Regions from separate parts of the Homo sapiens genome. Here region 2 is linked to region 1. The links come from fine-mapping of genetic effects on gene expression. A gene starts in region 1. The other region holds a variant in brackets. All regions are shown on one strand. Distances are between the middles of the regions.

What was found. PIP is the estimated chance that this variant, and not a neighbour inherited with it, causes the effect. A credible set is the group of variants that fine-mapping cannot tell apart.
Region 2: its variant is the best candidate, but not a certain one, in a credible set for the expression of MAPK13 in fetal neocortex (Walker 2019, PIP 0.54).

The regions. Positions count from the first base shown.
Region 1 is chr6:36,128,003-36,133,377 of GRCh38, forward strand. MAPK13 (mitogen-activated protein kinase 13) reads left to right here and starts at 2,511. Exons shown (of 12, transcript NM_002754.5): 1 at 2,511-2,699; 2 at 3,269-3,398; 3 at 4,619-4,677. The coding sequence starts at 2,581. RefSeq lists silencers at 2,407-2,656, 2,697-2,766, 3,407-3,516 and enhancers at 2,662-3,265, 3,157-3,276, 3,987-4,236.
Region 2 is chr6:36,104,951-36,110,325 of GRCh38, forward strand. MAPK14 (mitogen-activated protein kinase 14) reads left to right here. Exons shown (of 12, transcript NM_139012.3): 11 at 2,505-2,678; 12 at 3,430-5,375. The coding sequence ends at 3,497. Among named protein-coding and RNA genes, the nearest start is that of MAPK13, 23 kb to the right of the region's middle. The variant A/C (reference allele first, on the strand shown) is at 2,492.

The DNA of each region.
Region 1 (5,375 bases):
GGACCCCACCCCAACTTCAGAATCAAGGTACCTTGCACTGGTGCCACTGATCCCAAAGGTCCAAAACTCCTGCAGCACTCACAGGCAAGCGACCCCGTTCCTTAGGCTCTCATGGGGTCTCAGGGCCAGAGTAGGGGGTGGGGGAGGGAAAAGGCTGGGGAAAATATCAGATACCCCAGGGCAGGATGGACTGAGGGAGACATGGTTGGATCAGTAGACATGTCCTTATGATGTGGGCAAGGCCATTTCCTTTGAGGAGCAATTCTGTCAACTCTAGGCCACCGCATAGCCTCGCAGCCAAGAGCAGGGACTCTAGAATCAGGCTGTACTTGCTTTCACCCAGCTCTGCCCTTACCAGCTGTGTTACCTTGGGCAAATTACTTAGCCTCTCTGTACCTCGGGTTCCTCATCTCTAAAATGAGGATAATCATATTACTGACTCACAGGCCTCTTACCAGGATTAAGTGAGTTATATAAAACACTTAATGACGGGCACATGGCAAACACAAGTGTGTATTAAATGACTCTTTTACATCTAATGGGCTGACTCCTCCATTCATTCTCCACACATTTGCTGTTATATTGCCATGTGCCAGAAATGAAAAAGACAGATTGCCTGACTGAAATAATGGCAGGTGTTGTTGTGTGATGATGGCACCCCACCCTCATCTCAGAATGATCTTCCAGGCTGTGCCTGAGGCTGCAGGACTGCCCGGGAGGGCTTGGGGCACAGAGTTTGGGGGCTGCAGACTCCCTAGTGTGGGCCCCCGGCTTGCTGTAAGCCCCTAGCAAATTTCTTTCCTTGTTCAATAGACCTTCTTTTTGACAAAGTGAAGCAGGTGGTCCCCGCCCCTTCCACAGCCCCATGCCTGGGCAAGAGAGGGGTTGGACAAGTCAGGCTGGGCATCCAGAGCCCTTGCAGCCATCTCCTCCCCCCACCTGCCCACCTTGCTCCTCAGAGGCCTTTGTGGTTTGAGCAAAGAATCTCCATCAGGCTGCACAGGCCACCAGACAGGTGGCAAGGGCCCCAATTAGTCATTGTCCTCATAGAGCCTTAGGAAGTCCACAGAAACTGTGTTCAAAACTGCACATTTGGGCCAGGTGCGGTGGCTCACTTCTGTAATCCAAACACTTTGGGAGGCTGAGGTGGGCGGACCACCTGAGGTCAGGAGTTGAAGACCAGCCTGGCCAACATGGTGAAACCCCGTCTCTACTAAAAATACAAAAATTAGCTAGGAGTGGTGGTGTGCACCTGTAGTCCCAGCTACTCAGGAGGCTGAGGCAAGAGAATTGCTTGAACCTGGGAGGCGGAGGTTGCAGTGAGCTGAGATGGCGCCACTGCACTCCAGCCTAGGCAATAGAGTGAGACTCCATGTCAAAAACAAACAAAAATCCTGCACATTTGAACCTGCGTGGATATTTGGTATTATAGAATTAGTGCTATTAATTTTAGGTTTAAGAATGTATTGTGGGCCAGGCGCGGTGGCTCACGCCTGTAATCCCAACACTTTCGGAGGCCGAGGCGGGTGGTTCACGAGGTCAGGAGTTCAAGACCAGCCTGGCCAAGATGGTGAAACCCCATCTCTATTAAAAATACAAAAATTAGCCGGGTTTGGTGGCAGGCACCTACAATCCTAGCTAATCGGGAGGCGGAGGCAGAGAATTGCTTGAACCCGGGAGGCGGAGGTTGCAGTGAGCCGAGATGGCAACTGCACTCCGACAGAGTCTCAAAAAATATATATATATAGTATTGTGGATACGTACTTTTAAAAATCCTTACGTTTTAGAGATACAAAAATATTTATGAATAAAATGATATGACGCCTGGGTTTTGCTTCAAAACGATGGTGGGAGAGGAATGTGGATGAAATAAAATTGATTATGAGTTGTGGTTGCTGGGGAATTGGGGTCACGGGGGTTCATTAGAACCTCCTATCAGATGTGGTTCAGAAGCCTCAGACCTGGGAGCTGGCTAGAAATGCAGAATCTCGGCTCCACCCCAAACCTACTGAGTCAGGATCTGTATTTTAATCAAATAAAATGCCCAGGGGATTCCTGAGCACACTGAAGTGTGAGAAGCGCTGGCTTACTCTGTTCAATTCTTTCCTGCATGTTTGACATTTTCCATAATGAAGAGGTTGTGGGGTTTTGTTCTGCTTTCCTGTGTGTTCACAGTCACAGGGAGCTCTTCCTACGGAGACCGGGGCTGGAGGGAACTGGGAAGCACTGCCTCCCCGCTCCTGCTTGGACCCACCAGCCCCGCCGCTGGCCCGCGCTCGGCTGGGAGGCACCGGGGTCCCGCTGGGCAGCCCCGACCCCGTGCCTGGGCCGCACCTGCCGCAGTGGCTCCGTCGGGCCGGGCGGAAGCGCGGGAGCGCAGGGCTGGACAGGCCCGGGCGTGGCGGCCCCGGCGCACCTGGGCGAGCCGGCAGGTGGGAGCGTAGCAGCCCGGGGCCCCCGCCCTCGCGCGGGGGAGGAGCGGGCGGCGCGGGGCGGGCGCAGCGGGGGTCGGGGCGCTGGGAGCCCGTTGGGCCGCGAACGCAGCCGCCACGCTGGGGCCGCCGAGATCGGGTGCCCGGGATGAGCCTCATCCGGAAAAAGGGCTTCTACAAGCAGGACGTCAACAAGACAGCCTGGGAGCTGCCCAAGACCTACGTGTCCCCGACGCACGTCGGCAGCGGGGCCTATGGCTCCGTGTGGTGAGACCCCTGGGCCGCTGGGGGGCGGGGGGCGGGCGCCAGGCTCTCCCCTTTCCGCCCAGCCCGCCCTGGGCTGGCCCCTCGCCAGCGCCACCTTGACCGCGGACCTCAAGGCCCAGCGCCCTCCCCGGGGCCACCCAGCGGCCATCTCCCTTTTCTCACCGAGTGGCTGAGTGAGGTCTCTGGGGGTTGAGTTGGGACTGGGCCTGGTTCTCCAGGACTGTACACTTGCAAGACCCCAGAGTTCATCGGGCAGATCCTCACTGTTACAGACGAGTACACCGAGGCCCCAAGAGGGGGAGGTGGCTCGCCAAGTTGCAGACAGAGTGAGACTCCCGCCCTGCCGTGGATCCCGTCGCAATGAGACGTTGCTGCCCCTGGCGCTGTGCCCCTCTCTCAGCTCCTGCCTGGCTTCCTACTCCCTGCCCTGCGTCCCGCGGCTCCCCCATATTCTAGGTGGTGGGCCTAGTCCCCTCTCAGCCCAGCTGCCCAGTGGGAGGGGTCAGGGCGGTCTGGGAGATACGGCCCAGGAGGAGAGCCTCGCCTGCTGACCGGCCTGTGCCCGACAGCTCGGCCATCGACAAGCGGTCAGGGGAGAAGGTGGCCATCAAGAAGCTGAGCCGACCCTTTCAGTCCGAGATCTTCGCCAAGCGCGCCTACCGGGAGCTGCTGCTGCTGAAGCACATGCAGCATGAGAACGTAGGTGGTGGCTGCCCCGGGGAGGGGGTGGGGGCTGCCCTGGGGAGTCAGGGGCAGGCGCAGGCGGGGCCTCCCGGTATGGAGAGCTCGGGACAGTCTCCTCCCTGCTCCCCTGACGGTGCCTCTCGCCTCACTATTGAAAGGAGGGGGTGCCGAGACCTTCCCTGCCCACTTTCCAGGAAGAGGTCAAAGGGTATTTTTGGCAGAATGCACTTTGTGAGGTACAGACTGTGTTATCCTACAGAGGAAATTGGCACAGGGGAACTTTGTAATTGGTTCCATGTCTGAGAGCTTGTGGCCAGCTGGGACTAGAATCCTAGTTAGCGTTGTGTCCACGTGACCCTGATAACAATAGCAATATACACATATTGAGCACTTCCTATGTTCTAAGAGCTCTGCATACACTAACTTGTCTAGTCCTCATGATATATGAGTACTACTGCCCCCATGTCACAGACAGGAAACTAAAGCACAGCAAGGCTCACAGATTAGATGGTTAGTCAGTAGCAGAGCTGGGGTTTCAATCTCGGCAGCGAGGCTCCCGGTCTGAGCACATGACCATCAGATTGTCTTGTCTGATAGAAGCAGCTGGGAAAACCAGGGGCCCAGCTCAGGGCCTGGCAGCCAGGCTTTGCTGCAGGATACCTAGATTGGAGGGCAGACATTTCAAAGAATGATTTCAAAATGTTATGTACATTTTAAGCCCATCCTTCTCCAGCAAACCCCTCCCCTATGGCCTCCAGCCAGGGTGATCTTGCCCTTGGCTCTGAACCAGCCCTGTGGCAGGCAAGGATGGATGTGGCTGGAGACCCAAGGTCAGGGGCAGGGAGTTTGCTGGCTGAAAAGCTCCTTCTCTGTTCCCTCCTTTTTCCCTTCCACCCTCCCCTTATGCTTTCCTGCTGCCTAGGTGAGTTGAGAGTGGGTTTGTGTTGCTTGCCCTGACACCAGACTTGACAGCAATGAGCACACATCATTCTCCCCACCTTCCCTTCTCCCCAGCCTGACTCTCTGTCATGATTTATTGCAAACTCCCTCCAAATCCAGGGGATTCCTCTAGGCCTCTGCCCTTTTTACTGCTTCCAAGAAGGTTGGAGACATGCCTCCTGCTGGAGGTGGTGTATTAGGAAAGGGTGGATGGCCCTGTGCATGGCCAGGGCCCAGGAGGAGGTGGGAGGAGAAGGTAGCGTCTGTCTAGCCCTCACAGGTGACTTCTTCCCCAGGTCATTGGGCTCCTGGATGTCTTCACCCCAGCCTCCTCCCTGCGCAACTTCTATGACTTGTGAGTTGGGCTGCACTGGGTTCTGGGGCATTTGCAGGCCTTACATGCCGCTGGGGAGCAAGGTGGGGGAGGGTCTAGGGTTTCTATTCCGGGTGTGGCGGGGAGAGCCTCCTTCCCTGGCAGTCCTGTGCCTTTGCCTGTCAAGTGTGATTCTCTCTGGAAAGATGCTTTTAGCCAAAGGCAGGCAGGAAGAGGCAGGAAGGACTTTGTGGGGTGCTTGCCTGGCAGGGGGCAGTCTGCACAGCTGCTTTGCTTTTTACCCAGCTTTAACACCATGAAGACACATCTGCCAGTCCTCACAGGGTTAGCACCAACTCACCTTTCCTGGGGACACAGATGTGAGTCTGGACCTTGGAGCTCTTTCTAGCATGAAGCAAGGATTAAGAAGCCTTGGCTGCCTCTGGCTGATGGGGGTGTTTGACAGAATGGCAGAAAACCAGAATATTTAGCTGCAAAATGTATAGCTTTGCCTGTGCAGTGTCTGAATGAGACTGGACTATTTGGACAAGATGGAGAAGTCAGTGTGGCACGTGGAGGCCAGCAGCTGGCTTGGTCAAGCTGAATCTGGACTGACCCTACAGGCAGCCTCAAGACCTGGGGACTTTGAGCCGGGAGGTGATATGTTCAGATGGGATTTGGGGGATGCACACTGGCAGCAGCAAGAAAGGAGTAGGAAGCAGCTCGGAGGCAGAGGGGGA
Region 2 (5,375 bases), 23 kb before region 1:
GAGGCTTTGGTCCATCTGGTGCTCAGCACTGTACTTCTCAGCATTTAAACGTGCCTTACAGCCCATTGCCAAACAGTGATGTCATATAATGAGGCTCCCCTTGCTGGGCAGATGGAGCACAGTGTTACTATCACAAGCTCGTGCCCAGCATATTAACTGAGCAGGAACATGCCAGAAATATAAATATTAACAGCTCTGTTTTGTCAGCCACTGACTTTGTTTCACTGCTATTCCCAAAACATGAATTAAAACTTAAATTACCCCTTGATGTTAGTGTATGTATTTATCTGTCAAGATTTTTTTTTTTTAAGAGATGGCATCTCACTCTGTCACCCAGGTTAGAGTACAGTGGCACAGTCACGGTTCATGATAACCTCGAACTCTTGTGTTTAAGTGATCCTTCCTCTTCCCTATCCCAAGTAGCTGAGACAACAGGCACATAATGCCATGCCCAGCTAATAAGATCTTTGAGGAATTTGTTCTTGCCCCTGACCTTATTGGTTATAAGAACATGGTCCTTTTTACCCTAAGGGTAACAGAGACTTGTCGTATAATCTGTGTTCAATTATAAAATCAACAGCTGATAAGGTTTCTTTTTCTAAGAAGAGAAGACCATCAGAAGAATATATATATATATAATCCAGGCATTCACCTAGTACTGTAAAGTGTAAACTTATGAACTTGAATTGACACATGAATATTTACTTTGTTTCTGTATCCCCTTGAAGCCCATATTTCTCCAGTGGATTACTCTGGAATTCAAGCTGTAGGACGGGTGTTTTACAGCCTCCAATATACACAGCAGTAGATCTCTATAGGAAGCTGTCCTCTTCACTACTCACCCCCACACCCTCCACATTTAAGGAGTAATTTGCAAAGTCTCAAAAGCCTTTTTCACCACAGTGATAACTGGTTATATGGCAGTATTTATTCTCCCAAGTGCCACCATGCTGAAACACAAAAATACTCATTTGAAATATAGAGTTAGACAAATTACCATTTTGTAACCCCTTATGAAATAATTGCTTTTGGGAAGGAAACCCAGTGAATGCAGAAAGCCATAAGTGAAAAGAATGGATATTTACTTGGTACCAAAATATCCCGCAGATTACTTGCTTTGGTCAAAGGGGAAACATCTTAACCCAGTGATCAATTTTAGCTCATTAGTAGTGGGACAGATGGCCTTAATGCACTGTCACGTGCACAGCATCACCTGTATTTTTGCTGAAAATGTTTAACCTGATTCTTACCAAAATTTTTGACCTAACTTCCGGTTTTTGGGAAGTACAGGGGATAGTGGAAAGCAGGGTATAGACACATGACAGCAAAAGAAGCAAAATCAGACACATCCCGAGAAACGGTCATTCTCAGGACAATCAGAGGGTCTCTTTAGATCAAAATCAGGAAAGAACAGGGCTTAGAAGTAAGAAGATTATTCTAGACTAAGAGAGACTAAAGAAAACCAGTCAGTTGCAGTGCATGGCCCCTAATTGAATCCTGGTTTCAACAAACTAGTTCTAAAAGACAACGTTGGAATAATTGGAGAAATCTTAACATGAACTGGATTTTAGATGATATTTAGAAATTATTTGTCAGAGATAATAACAGTATTATGATTATATAGGAAGATGTCTTCGTGTTGAAATATTTGGGGAGGGTAAAGTGTCATGTCTATAATTTTATTTTAAAACAGTTCAGAAAAAAATACATATAAATACAGAAATATAAAAATGTTAATTGTTGAATATGCTAGGCATATGAGTGTTCACTTTATCATAGTTTTTACTTTTCTGTTTCTGTATATTTGAAATTTTTCATAGTGAAATTTTTAAAAATAAAATTCCCTTTGATTTTAATACCATGTCTCACCCTCATCACCATGTAAAACCCCCAGTTTATTCACTGTTTGAAGATCTGTTGATGAATATTTGATGTTAGTAAATAAACAGCTTAGGGGGACAAAAAAAAAACAGCCCTGCCTACCTATTGTAGGTTACTTCAGCTGTAGGCTTTGTTTTATACAGTTTGACTACACTGGTAGCAGTTTGACATTGACGGTCCACAAAAGCCTGTTCAAACAGAATCCCAGTCATTTAAAAAAATTCTTCTTTAGTAACATATTCTTTAAAAATACAAAATACAGGAGGAGGGTGAGGGTTGAGAGATAACCTATCGGGTACAATGTTCACTATTTGGTTAATGGGCACGCTAGAAGCCCAGTCCCCATCAGTCCGTGGTGAGACCCATGTAACAAATGTGCACATGTACCCCCAAATCAAAAATAAAATAAAAAAATTTTAAAACATAGAAAATACAGATACACACACACACACACACACACATACACACATAAAGGAGAAGAGGGCTAATATATCCTAGAGTAGGTATTTTGGAGGAGAGTTCTTTGTTTGGATATGAAGGGTCAAAACTATGTTTGCTCAATAAGGCATACTTTTTTGTAACATGTTAAAAACTCTTTTCCTTCCTGTCT[A/C]TGGTACTGATAGCTGTCGACTTGCTGGAGAAGATGCTTGTATTGGACTCAGATAAGAGAATTACAGCGGCCCAAGCCCTTGCACATGCCTACTTTGCTCAGTACCACGATCCTGATGATGAACCAGTGGCCGATCCTTATGATCAGTCCTTTGAAAGCAGGGACCTCCTTATAGATGAGTGGAAAAGTAAGTCCTAAGGGTAGGATTAACATCTTGAACCACTAACCAAAAGCGGTGGGAAAAATAAAAACTGAATGGTCATAACCAACTTGCTAAAGCTTGTAGATGAGGTCTCTAATGCAGAATGAATATGTTCTCTGGTGGAAACTGTTGTAGACAGTGATACTCTCTGGACCTTTGAGATACTTATGTCTGGTCTGATTTTATGCACAGCCCCTCACATAGGAGTTTTGCATGGAGAGTTGAGGTTTTCAGAGTCATTGCATTTACAACATCTCTCTGAGCTTTTACAGTTTTACAATTAGTAGAACTGGGGCAAAGAGAATTTATGTCTTATCAGTTAACTTAGAACTAGTTAGGGACATAGCCAGGAATGGAACCCATGTATCCTGTGTCCAGTCCCATATTCTTTCCACAAAACACAAGTTCAGAACTCTAGTTAAATCCCAAGAGCCAAGACCATCTGTTGCTGTAGCTTGTGAGAGTGCTCTTTCATTCTTGAGCACCTCCGTAGAGAGCTTAAAAGAAGAGGCACTCAGCGATGAAAAACATGAGAAAAAAAATGGTTCTTTTCTATGTCCCTTGAACTTCTGTGTGATAACGTGTTCCAGTAGGCTATTACATACAAGCTGTGAGGTAGCCCATCAAACCACTACCTGGACAGAGAGGAAGGATCTTGAGCTTAGAAGTCAGAGTGCTTGCCAGCAAAGAGAATAGCCTAAACTCTCACATCTTACTTTTCCTTCCCAATTTCTAGGCCTGACCTATGATGAAGTCATCAGCTTTGTGCCACCACCCCTTGACCAAGAAGAGATGGAGTCCTGAGCACCTGGTTTCTGTTCTGTTGATCCCACTTCACTGTGAGGGGAAGGCCTTTTCACGGGAACTCTCCAAATATTATTCAAGTGCCTCTTGTTGCAGAGATTTCCTCCATGGTGGAAGGGGGTGTGCGTGCGTGTGCGTGCGTGTTAGTGTGTGTGCATGTGTGTGTCTGTCTTTGTGGGAGGGTAAGACAATATGAACAAACTATGATCACAGTGACTTTACAGGAGGTTGTGGATGCTCCAGGGCAGCCTCCACCTTGCTCTTCTTTCTGAGAGTTGGCTCAGGCAGACAAGAGCTGCTGTCCTTTTAGGAATATGTTCAATGCAAAGTAAAAAAATATGAATTGTCCCCAATCCCGGTCATGCTTTTGCCACTTTGGCTTCTCCTGTGACCCCACCTTGACGGTGGGGCGTAGACTTGACAACATCCCACAGTGGCACGGAGAGAAGGCCCATACCTTCTGGTTGCTTCAGACCTGACACCGTCCCTCAGTGATACGTACAGCCAAAAAGGACCAACTGGCTTCTGTGCACTAGCCTGTGATTAACTTGCTTAGTATGGTTCTCAGATCTTGACAGTATATTTGAAACTGTAAATATGTTTGTGCCTTAAAAGGAGAGAAGAAAGTGTAGATAGTTAAAAGACTGCAGCTGCTGAAGTTCTGAGCCGGGCAAGTCGAGAGGGCTGTTGGACAGCTGCTTGTGGGCCCGGAGTAATCAGGCAGCCTTCATAGGCGGTCATGTGTGCATGTGAGCACATGCGTATATGTGCGTCTCTCTTTCTCCCTCACCCCCAGGTGTTGCCATTTCTCTGCTTACCCTTCACCTTTGGTGCAGAGGTTTCTTGAATATCTGCCCCAGTAGTCAGAAGCAGGTTCTTGATGTCATGTACTTCCTGTGTACTCTTTATTTCTAGCAGAGTGAGGATGTGTTTTGCACGTCTTGCTATTTGAGCATGCACAGCTGCTTGTCCTGCTCTCTTCAGGAGGCCCTGGTGTCAGGCAGGTTTGCCAGTGAAGACTTCTTGGGTAGTTTAGATCCCATGTCACCTCAGCTGATATTATGGCAAGTGATATCACCTCTCTTCAGCCCCTAGTGCTATTCTGTGTTGAACACAATTGATACTTCAGGTGCTTTTGATGTGAAAATCATGAAAAGAGGAACAGGTGGATGTATAGCATTTTTATTCATGCCATCTGTTTTCAACCAACTATTTTTGAGGAATTATCATGGGAAAAGACCAGGGCTTTTCCCAGGAATATCCCAAACTTCGGAAACAAGTTATTCTCTTCACTCCCAATAACTAATGCTAAGAAATGCTGAAAATCAAAGTAAAAAATTAAAGCCCATAAGGCCAGAAACTCCTTTTGCTGTCTTTCTCTAAATATGATTACTTTAAAATAAAAAAGTAACAAGGTGTCTTTTCCACTCCTATGGAAAAGGGTCTTCTTGGCAGCTTAACATTGACTTCTTGGTTTGGGGAGAAATAAATTTTGTTTCAGAATTTTGTATATTGTAGGAATCCTTTGAGAATGTGATTCCTTTTGATGGGGAGAAAGGGCAAATTATTTTAATATTTTGTATTTTCAACTTTATAAAGATAAAATATCCTCAGGGGTGGAGAAGTGTCGTTTTCATAACTTGCTGAATTTCAGGCATTTTGTTCTACATGAGGACTCATATATTTAAGCCTTTTGTGTAATAAGAAAGTATAAAGTCACTTCCAGTGTTGGCTGTGTGACAGAATCTTGTATTTGGGCCAAGGTGTTTCCATTTCTCAATCAGTGCAGTGATACATGTACTCCAGAGGGACAGGGTGGACCCCCTGAGTCAACTGGAGCAAGAAGGAAGGAGGCAGACTGATGGCGATTCCCTCTCA